Linked DNA regions of Homo sapiens: region 2 is linked to region 1. A link means that fine-mapping ties the variant in region 1 to the expression of a gene that starts in the linked region. Tissue or cell type: skeletal muscle. Region 1 holds a variant in brackets; the other region holds the start of a gene. All regions are shown on one strand. Distances are from middle to middle.

What was found. PIP is the estimated chance that this variant, and not a neighbour inherited with it, causes the effect.
Region 2: it holds the start of SLC26A7, and the variant in region 1 is fine-mapped to the expression of SLC26A7 in skeletal muscle (FUSION, PIP 0.91).

Annotation. Positions count from the first base shown.
Region 1 is chr8:90,797,106-90,802,433 of GRCh38, reverse strand. NECAB1 (N-terminal EF-hand calcium binding protein 1) reads right to left here. Exons shown (of 13, transcript NM_022351.5): 2 at 719-743. Among named protein-coding and RNA genes, the nearest start is that of NECAB1, 8.0 kb to the right of the region's middle. The variant T/G (reference allele first, on the strand shown) is at 2,700.
Region 2 is chr8:91,247,015-91,252,342 of GRCh38, reverse strand. SLC26A7 (solute carrier family 26 member 7) reads right to left here and starts at 3,024. Exons shown (of 19, transcript NM_052832.4): 1 at 2,930-3,024; 2 at 2,499-2,804. The coding sequence starts at 2,691.

The sequences.
Region 1 (5,328 bases):
TATTTGGTGTTCTCTGGGACAAAGTTTCTAGTGGAATAATAGAGTCGAAAGATACTGCTTATGACAACTTAGATGTTGTGCAGTCATCATTAAATCAACAGAGCAAGTTTTTACTTCGAGGTTGCCATCTCCTACTTCTCTGTTGCTATAGATTATCATTTCCAGGGCATACACTTCAAATAGGAAAGCAGTGGCCAGGAACAATGGGGTAGAGATAAAGCTAGCAATGCAGGTTTCCAGGCAGACCTCTTGGAGTACAGTAAAATCTCCAAAGCCATGTTAAAGCTCAGTGTGGAGAGTCCAGACTTGCGTGTCATACAGACCTGGGGTCCAGTCTCAGCTTTGTATTGTAATAATTCTAGGACATAATATGCACAAAGCACTTGGCCCAATGCCTGGCACACAGTAGACACTCAATGAATAGAAGCTGCTATTGCTGCAAAATTATTTTTTGGTGCATGAAAAGGAAAAGCCAGAGTCCAAATATGGCAGAGCTCCTCACTTCAAAGGCATAAACATTCCTTTCAAATGTAAATCCTTCTGCCAACTTCTTATGAATATTTAGGGCCTAAAACTTATCTAAAACGATCACTAGTACAATAAGGTAGTATTTTATATGTAATTTTCCCGGACTGTCCCCTTTTTCCTGATTATTATTTATAAGGTAATATAAAATGTAAGAGATTAATAAATAGATACTGTAGATTTTTGGTCTTACCATTTTTGTCTGCTCTCCTCAGTATCTGGAAAGGAAAAAGGAAAAAATTTTATCAGCATTTTAGATAAATATTGCAACGAACGTTACACTTACACATAATTTATTCATAATTAAATAAAATACATTCTAATTTTAAGTAAGCGTTTCCCAATTGAGATCTTTCTTTATAATATCTAAAACCTGAAAATGACCCAAATGTCCATGGATAAACAAACCGTGAATGAACAAACCAACTGTGGTATAGCCATACAATAGAATACTACTGAGCAATAAAAATGAATGAGCTATTTATACACACAACAACTTGGATAGAACCAAAAATAACTAGGCTGAGTAGAAAACCTAGATGCAAAATAATACCTACTTATAATTCCATTTATATAAAATTCTTAAAAATGCAAACTAATCTATAGGGACAGAAAACAGATTAAGCTTCCTAGGAATGGGCAGGGCAGGGGAGGGTGGATTACAAGAGGATGTAAGAAAACTTTTGCAGGTGATAGAGATAGTTATTATCTTGAATGTGGTAATGGTTTCATATATGTTAAAACTCATCAAGTTTACACTTTACATATGTGCACATTAATGTAAGTCAATCATACCTCAATAAAACTGGGATTCAACAAAACATAAAAGAAAAATAATACATCATGGGTAAAGAGTAACCACATGTCTATGCTATATCTACTTTATTTATACTTTATTAATCATATTATCTTGGACGTATTTTAAATTGTCTTGATGTATAAGAACTATTTGGCCATCCGGTATCCATTACTCTTTAGTAATGATTTCTAATGTTCTTCTGGAAAGCCTACATTTCCTACATGCTTGGCCTAGGTGCTCCAGTGTTGGGCAGGGCACTTATGTCTGACAAACACGGTGTCATATCCCTCTGGTCACGGTGACTGCTCAGGGATGAGCACATTAGGGCCAGTGAATGACAGGTCATGGTTTTGCCTGAGTGGTTAGGAGAGAGACATACTCTTCTTTCTGCTGACTTTGAACCTAGGAATATATAGGCAATGCACTGCTGTCATTCGTTTTGTTATTGGATATATTGTAGGTTGAATTGTGTCCTCCAAAACCAAATGTTGAAATCCTAATGCTCAGTATCCACGAATGTAACTTTATCTGGAAATAGGGGTTTGGGAGGAAAAGACTTTGATAAAATCCAACCTTCCTTCATGATAAAAACTCTGAACAAACTAGGCATTGAAGGAACATACCTCAAAATAATAAGAGCCATCTATGCCAAACCCACAGCCAACATCACACTAAACAGGCAAAAGCTGGAAGCATCTCCTTGAATGCTAGAACTAGAACTGGAACTGGAACAAGACAAGGACGCCCACTCTCACCACTCCTATTCAACATAGTACTGGAAGTCCTTGCCAGAGCAATCAGGCAAGAGAAAGAAATAAAAGGCATCCAAATAGCAAAATAAGAAGCCAAATGGTCTCTCTTCACTGACGATATAATCTTATACCTAGAAAACTCAAAGACTCCACCAAAAGCCTCCTGGGACTGATAAACGACTTCAATAAAGTTTCAGGATATAAAATAAAGGTACAAAACTCAGTAGCATATCTATGCAGCAATAGCATTCAATCTGAGAGACAAATCAAGAATGCAATCCCATTTACAATAGCTACACAAAAAATAAAATACCTAGGAATACATTTAACCAAAGAAGTGAAAGACTTCCACAAGGAGAACTACAAAACACTGCTGAAAGAAATCATAGATGACAGAAACAAATGGGGAAACATTCCATGCTCAAGAATTGGAAGAATCAATATTGTTAAAATGGCCATACTACCCAAAGCAATGTATACATTCAATACTATTCCTATCAAACTACCAATGTCATTTTTTACAGAATTAGAAAAAACTGTTCTAAAATTCATATGGAACCAAAATGGAGCCTGAATAGCCAAAGCAATTCTAAACAAAAAGAACAAAGCTGGAAGCATCACAT[T/G]ACTTGACTTCAAACTATACAGTAAGGCTACAGTAGACAAAACAGCATGGTACTGGTACAAAAAACAGATACAAAAATGAAACAGAATAGAGAACCCAGCAATAAAGCTGTACACTTACAGCCAGCTGATCTTCAACAAAATCAACAAAAATAAATAATGGGGAAAGGATTCCCTATTCAATAAATGGTGCTGGGATAGCTAGTAGGTCATATGCAGAAGAATGAAACTGGAGCACTATCTAATACTATAGACAAAAATTAACTCAAGATGGATTAAAAATTTCGATATAAGACCTCACACTATAAAAATCCTATAAGAAAACCTAGAAAATATCATTCTTGACATTGAGAAAAAATTGGCCTTGAGAAAAAAGTTATAACTAAGTTCTCAAAAGGAATTGCAACAAAAACAAAAATTGACAAGTGGGACCTAATTAAACTAAAGAGCTGGAGCACAGGAAAATGAACTATCAACAGAGTAAACAGAGAATCTAAAGAATGGGAGAAAATATTCACCAACTATGTATTCAACATATTACTAATATACAGAATCTGTAAAAATTATATTTCAAAAAACAAAAAAGAACCCCATTAAGAAGTGGGCAAAAGACATGAACAGACACTTCTCAAAAGAAGACATACAAGTGGCCAACAAACATACGAAAAAATGCTCAACATCACTAATCATCAGAGAAATGCAAATCAAAACCACAATATGCTATCATCTCACACCAGTCAGAATGGCTATTATCAGAAAGTCAAAAAAAACACAACCACATTCTGGAGCTGCTGCAGAGAAAAGGGAATGCCTATATACAGTTGGTGGGGATGTAAATTAGTCTAGCCTATGGAAAGCAGTTTGGAGATTTCTCAGAGAACTTAAAACAGAACTACCATTTGACTCTGCAATCCCGTTACTGAGTATATATTCAAAAGTAAATAAATCATTGTACCAAAAAGACACATGGCACTCGTATATTCATTGCAGCATTATTCACAATAGCAAAAATACTAAATCAACTTAAGTGCCCATCAGTGGTCAATTGGATAAAGAAAATGTGGTACATATACATCATGGAATACTACACAGCCATAAAAAAGAACAAGATAATGTCCTTTGCAGTGACATGGATGCAACTGGAGGCCATTATCCTGAGTGAATTAATGCAGAAGCAGAAAACCAAACACTGCATATTCTCACTTATAAGTGGGAGCTAAACATTGGGTACACATGAACATAAAGATGGCAGCAACATACACTGGGGACTAATAGAGGGAAGAGGGAGGTTGGGGAGAAGAGTTGAAACACTAACTGTTGAGTATTATGCTCACTACCTGGGTGATGGAATCATTTGTACCCCAAATCTCGCCATCATGTGATACACCCACGTAACAAACCTGCACATATTCCTCCTGAATCTAAAATAAAACTTTAAGTTATAAAAAGAAAAGAAATAGGGTTTGCTGATGTAATCCCATTAAGATAAAATATAACTGGATTGGGTGGTCCCTAAGTCCAATGACTGGGCATCTTACAAGGAGAGAAATTCAGAGATGCAGAGATAGAGGATAGAGACCACATGATCAAAGAGTCAGGTATTGGCGTGGTGCAGCTGAAAGCCAAGGATGCCAAAGTACTGACAGGTGCCATCAGAAGCAAGAGAGGAAGTATGATACAGTTCCCCCTCTGGAGCCTTCCCAGGGAGCATCATCCTGCTAGCAGCTTGATTTCGCCCTTCTCACCTCCAGAACTGTGGAGGGTACATTCTATTGTGATAGTTTGTTAGAGCAGCCCTAGGAAACTAATACAATATATAACCTGGAAAGAACCAACACCCAGGAAAGTAGTTTTCAGAGACTTAGGGAAACTGGGTCCAGATAGCACTCCTTGAGTCTCTGATTAAGTAATCTTGATGAGATGATCTCTGCTTTTTCATTACAGGAGCCAATACATTATTTTTTAAAACAATCTTAAAACAGTTTGCATTATTTTTCCTGCTAGCTGCAATGAAGTTAACCCTGATAGATATGCTAATAGAAAATAATCTGGATAACATACTACAGAGCTATGTTATATACAGTACCAAAGAGGATGCCCCACTAGCACATTGCAAAGACAAACTTTAATTGCTTGGAAGGGGCCCTTGAGGATGACTTTTTTTCCCTAAGTAACTTGTAGTTATAGTTAAATAACCAGAGCTACTCTTATATTTAGATCGTCACTTCTTGCTGGCCAGCTTGAAACATGAGCAATCATTTTTATTCCCAAGTTGTCTGTTTTACTGCTTTCTACTATAAAAACATTATCCTCCTTTCATTCTGCCAACTTCACGGAAATGAGGTATAGATAAATCTAATCATTGCCACAATGTGTTTTAAGATACTAGTATTACTATTAAAGATCTCACCAATGAAACTGTTCCAGCAACAGGTAGGTATCACCTAGACTCGCATGCAGAAGAAGATGGTCCTCCTTTTTTACTAAATTGATGTAATTACTGCAGGAGGACTGCTTTCAATAGTAAGAGTTATGCTTAAAGCAAAATGAGACCCAGATTATTTTTCCTCCAGAGTTAATTGCTAGAGGGGATTTTGAGGATTCATTCCCTTATCACAACCAGCTTCTTCC
Region 2 (5,328 bases), 450 kb before region 1:
GCTATTTGACATATAGAAAACACTCAAATGAATTTCCATTATCCTTAATTTAAATGCACTCCTTGAGAAAGAAGAACGAAAAACAACTACTAGATTGAAACATAAACATTCTATCTTTGTAGGTCAAGAAACAGTAAATTGGACAATTTTATATAATTCAACTATGCTGAGTAACTGAAAAGCTGCTACAAAAATGGGTAAAGCTAAAAAAAGGTGCTTGAGCCTATTGTTTGCGTTATGATGCAAGAACAAAAATTATCCCTCTTTCTTCTAATTTTCCTTAGAAAATTGAGCTGATAATAATTGCCAATATTGTATTCAGACAAACAAGAGGTAATGATATCTAAATGCCTTCCTTACTCTGTATCCTATTCTAGTTATTTTTCTTGTCACTTTGCCTTTGAATCTAAAAACTGCAGGGATGAAACCTGAATGCAAAAGCAATTTGAAGGGAAGGATAGTCACACCTTTCCAAAGAAATGTCTTCTATTACTAATAACATTGGTGTTATGAAAAGTCTTGTTATTTTGGCAGTGTAGACTATAAAGTGAAAATGTTGAGTGTTGGCTTTGGAATCAAGTCCTGACTCCACTACTTATCAGGTATGACGTCCAGGGAAAATTTCTAACTCTTCTAAACCTCCATTTTCTCCTGTGGAAAATGGAGAGGAGACTGCTGTGTCTTGGGATTCTGTTAGGATAGGGGGAGATAATGTATGTAAGGGTTTAGGGCATTGCCTCTTACAACAAATGGTAGCTTATGGCATTTCACTTTTTAACTGTCTATACGTAGTAGATGAGCATGAAAAAGTTTGAGAAAATTGTTTTTAAAAGAATAGACATTTTAAAAATAATTAGTCTTAAATTTCACAAACAAAAACGTTTTTGTAGTGCAGCCTTATCCATTCACTGGTAGCCTTCCAAGAGAATCAGCAGCCAGATTCATAACTTCCCAAGACACAAGGGCTGAGTATGTGTTGTGCTTCTCATCAGTCTTGGGGCTGGCCAATGTGTCCCTTCATAACCAGTGAAATACATGACTCGTAAAACAAAATCCCTCAAAATCTATACCCAAATAAAAGCCATATAATTAACTACTGAAACTTATACATAAATAGTATCACTAATGATACACCATAGATAACTTTATCTTATCCTCAAATTGTCTTATTAACTTGATATTTTCCAAAGGTAAAAAAAGAAATTATTTTTAAAAACATAATTCTCTTTCATTTTACATTAAATTAAAGCAAAATAAATTTATAGCATGCTGAAACTATCTGGTTAAAAAAAAAATTCATCACTTAAGTTTTCAAAGTACATTGGTATTGTTTCATTTGGAATTTAAAACTGAATAAAAGCAAGTCCAAAAATGCCCAAAGCTGTTATTTACTTTGCATTTTTCTGAAAGATTACTATGCATTTCTATTGGCAAAATGGTCATTAAAAATATAAGACTATTCAGTAAAATGGAATCCTATAAAGTATGACAGTATTATGGATCTTAAAGTCACTAGTGCAGATGTTCCTAATTATACCAAAAACACAAATACACAAACCAGTTTGTTCCAGCTACAGAATAATTTAATTAAAAGAGTGCTTATAATTTAACAGTGTAAATAATAGTTAAAGCCAAGGAGGTAGTGAAACTGCAAGGAAATATAAGCCTGCAGTGTCTATGCCAAGGAAACTGCTCTAAATTCTCAAGGTTCAGAAATTAGTTCCTTTCCTTGCTACAGGTAGAAAATTATTTGAATTAGCCAAGAACTGCAATGGATATATCTTTAAGGCAAACAAATACACACACATGCACACTAGGTCGGTAGCTTTTGCCAATAGAAACACCTATCTAAATCCAGAATATCATTTAGTCTGTTTTGGGGAAAGTTAAAATCAGACTTCTCACCAGTTTAAATATCTTACTGAGAAATAGATGTAGTAGGTAATGTGATACAGAAGTAAATCAGCATAGACAGTAAAACATAAGCTCTCAGGACACACAGGATTCTCTTTGCAAATACCAATCTTGGCAAAGAGCCTCCTTTATGTACAGAAAGCTTTGTTCCTTGTTTATAGCAACTCTCAAGGCTACAACAGGTAATTGTGTGCTGCTAATTAGGTTCCAAAACGATTGTGTTCAAGCCAGGAGTATTTTATAGCTTGATTCAGTGAAAGTAGGCAACTATATCCATAAGATCATGTTATAAAAACTCACACTCCCATAATTACTAATCTTTCACTCTAAAACAGTGTGAATTTTAACAGTGAAAAAATGTAATGTCATTCAAAAGTTTATTCAATGCTTAATAGCTATCAAAATACAGAGGAAAAAAGACAATTAGGAAAACTCTTCTCCAAATATATCCAATATGCTTGTTTCCCCACAGCTAATATCCATTTATTTAGCTAAATTGTTTATTCTAGGTCATAGTATTATTCCAAGGAAGCAAAGTGACATCTACTCTGCATAATACAGGAAACTCAAATGCAATACATTACCTTGGGTCACCTGTTGAACTGCCAACATTATCCCAGACACAGTGTCTGGAAGCAAGTTTTCTTTCAGATTGTAATGTGGTGCCCAATCCAAAATGGGCAGTCGCCTTCTACACCACTGTATAATGTCTTCACACTGGGGGGTATGCATCTTGCTCCAAAGCATGCTTTTCTTTTTCCTCTTTGCTCCTGTCATTTTTCAGATTTCTTCTTGTAGAAGTAAACTTCTCTAAACAAGAAAAAAAATCATTGCAGAACACCTCCTTTCAATGCCAAGCTCCAATTCGTCTGTGGTTTACAATGTCAAAGCTGCCCAGAAAATAAGTAAATAAAAGAGAGAGAGAGAGAGAGATTAACAGAAGCACTTCAATATATGCAGCTGTCTTTTTATGATACAGCTAATTATTCTAGATTTAAAAACTATAGATTAAAACCTTGAATTCTTATCTGAAGGAGAAGTAGTTCCTGTTCATGTAATATTTTTTTCTGGTCTTGGAAAAGTAATGGGTTCAGTGTTAAGTTGGTCTACAGCTCTCTCGCCAGTAATTCCCCTTATATTCACTGTAGTCTTATGTTTTTGGCTGCAATCCCAATGGTTAATGAGGTAGTTCTGGGCGTGTGTTGGAAGTGGGCTGGGCTATGCTAATGAAACCAGGAAATATCCAGCTAGTCCAGTCTCTCTCTACAAGCTGTGCAAAATCATAAAACTGCCAGAGGGATCTATTGTGCAAAATATATTCAGAGAATCCAGCCCTATTTCTTTGAGAGCTATATATTTTCAACATTATCAGATGACTGCCAGTTCTACAAAATTCAGAAACATAACAGGGCATTGCTAAAGGTCCTTACCATTTTTATTCCCTGGCAGATGAGGTTTTCATTCATACAGAAACATTCAGATAGCTACTGCCCAGTCTGGGAAAGGAGTAACTAGTTCTCATAAACAAACTGAAATTTCATCTCATGGGCTAAGAGAATAAGTATCACAATGAGCACATATTTGTGACAGGAGATCTTCCCTGTCTCTGAAACTGTTCATTCAGTTTTCTCTGATGGTTTCTCTAAGTCCTATAATTCATTCTACTGTAACTGAAATTTACTGAGGAATGTTATATGGTTCAAACTATTGTTTGAAGTATCCTTAGCTTTTTTTATGGTGCTGCCTTCTTTTTGTATAACTTTTGGGGGTAGGTGTTCTCTTTTTAATAAGGGGTGTTACATTTTATAATAGAACAGACTGTCAAAGATTTTTATTTTATGATCATTTTGCTTAGCCTCCAAAAGAAAAAGAAAAACTTAAATCTATGAACTGTGCCATTGGAATTAAACCAAAAAGGCAACATACTAACTAAAATTGTGTAGCCAAGGAAAAGAATACCATGTATATAGTTTGCTGAGTCCTTTTTAATGCCCATTTGTTTGGAGAATAGAAATCTGATTTCTGGAAGCCTTTATAATAACAAAGTACTTGGATCCCTCCTGCTGCACTTTTTCCCTTTGTTTTTAAATTAAAGTGAAGAGTTGCTCTCCATCTTCTAAAGATGACATCTCTAGCTTTGTGTCTGTGCAAAAATACCTTTCTTTTTAAATCCAACGAAGAGACGCAGCGGGGTGGGGGGGAATTTATTTATACTTACAAAATAGAAACTGCTTTGTTTGTCCAACTGTTTTTACATTATATTAAATTTCTAAACCATTCAATAGTTCAGGTTTGGGGCCTGTAGAGAGAGCCCCATTTAGAGACCAAGTTGTAGCATTTTAATCCTATCCTCTTGGTATGAGAGATGAACTCACCAAATAATTGTAAATTCATGCTTGAAACATTACATTGGTTTTCCTTCACAAAAAGCAATCTTTACTTTTGTTTTATATACTCCATTTATTATATACGCAAAGAAATTCAGAAGCTATACATACACTGATTATGTATTACCTTTATAATAAAAATAAACACAAGATTTTTTTTCAAATCCTATCTAGGTCATAAATTCTAACGTATGTTAACAATATGAGAAAAATAATTGAAAGCTTAACTGAAATCACCAATCAACATCTATCATTTGTGTAATTTCAATCATTTTTAAATTTGTGTTAAATTCCATAACAAAAAATTCACATGAACAGGATTTTATGAATTGAAGGTAAATAGAAGTACCTAAATCATATAGCACCAGCAATTGTTCTAAAACATTTCAAGACCAAGAGAGGGTAGAAATTAACAAAATAGTTCTGAAATCTCTCAATTTAAAAATTTCTTAAAATTAGAATGAATCTTTCCTAAAAATCTTTTTTGAAGCTTAAATCTGGAATTCCAATTCCAGATGTTTTTTTTCAATTTCCATGTGCATACATATTATTTAAAACATGTCAAACCAGAGCATGGATCATGCCTATTTATAATCAGCAATGCCAGAAAGAAAGAAAAACATTATGAGGAAATTTATTCACACACATAAGATTCTCAGAGTAACTTGAACAGCCTGCAAAATTCAAGAATGCTAAGTGTATTCATTCAAAAGTTTCAATGACTAAAAGTAGCTTACAGTTCAACAGTATGTACCATCTATATGGAATATCTCTTCCTAAACATCTGGGATAATACCTATACAAATAAAAAGATGAAATTGTTATCTTCTACTTCATACATGGATTAACAGAAAGATTTTTTGTAAAATCTCATTTTGATTACATCACTGATATGTTTGAATTTCAGTTATCTCCAATATCAAACTTAAACTCATTAGTGGAAGCAATGCAGTCCTTCTCTGCTCCCCTTCCCACCTTCTACTCACTAGCTTCTCATTAACTCTAATTCAGCAAGTTTTTATTAAAC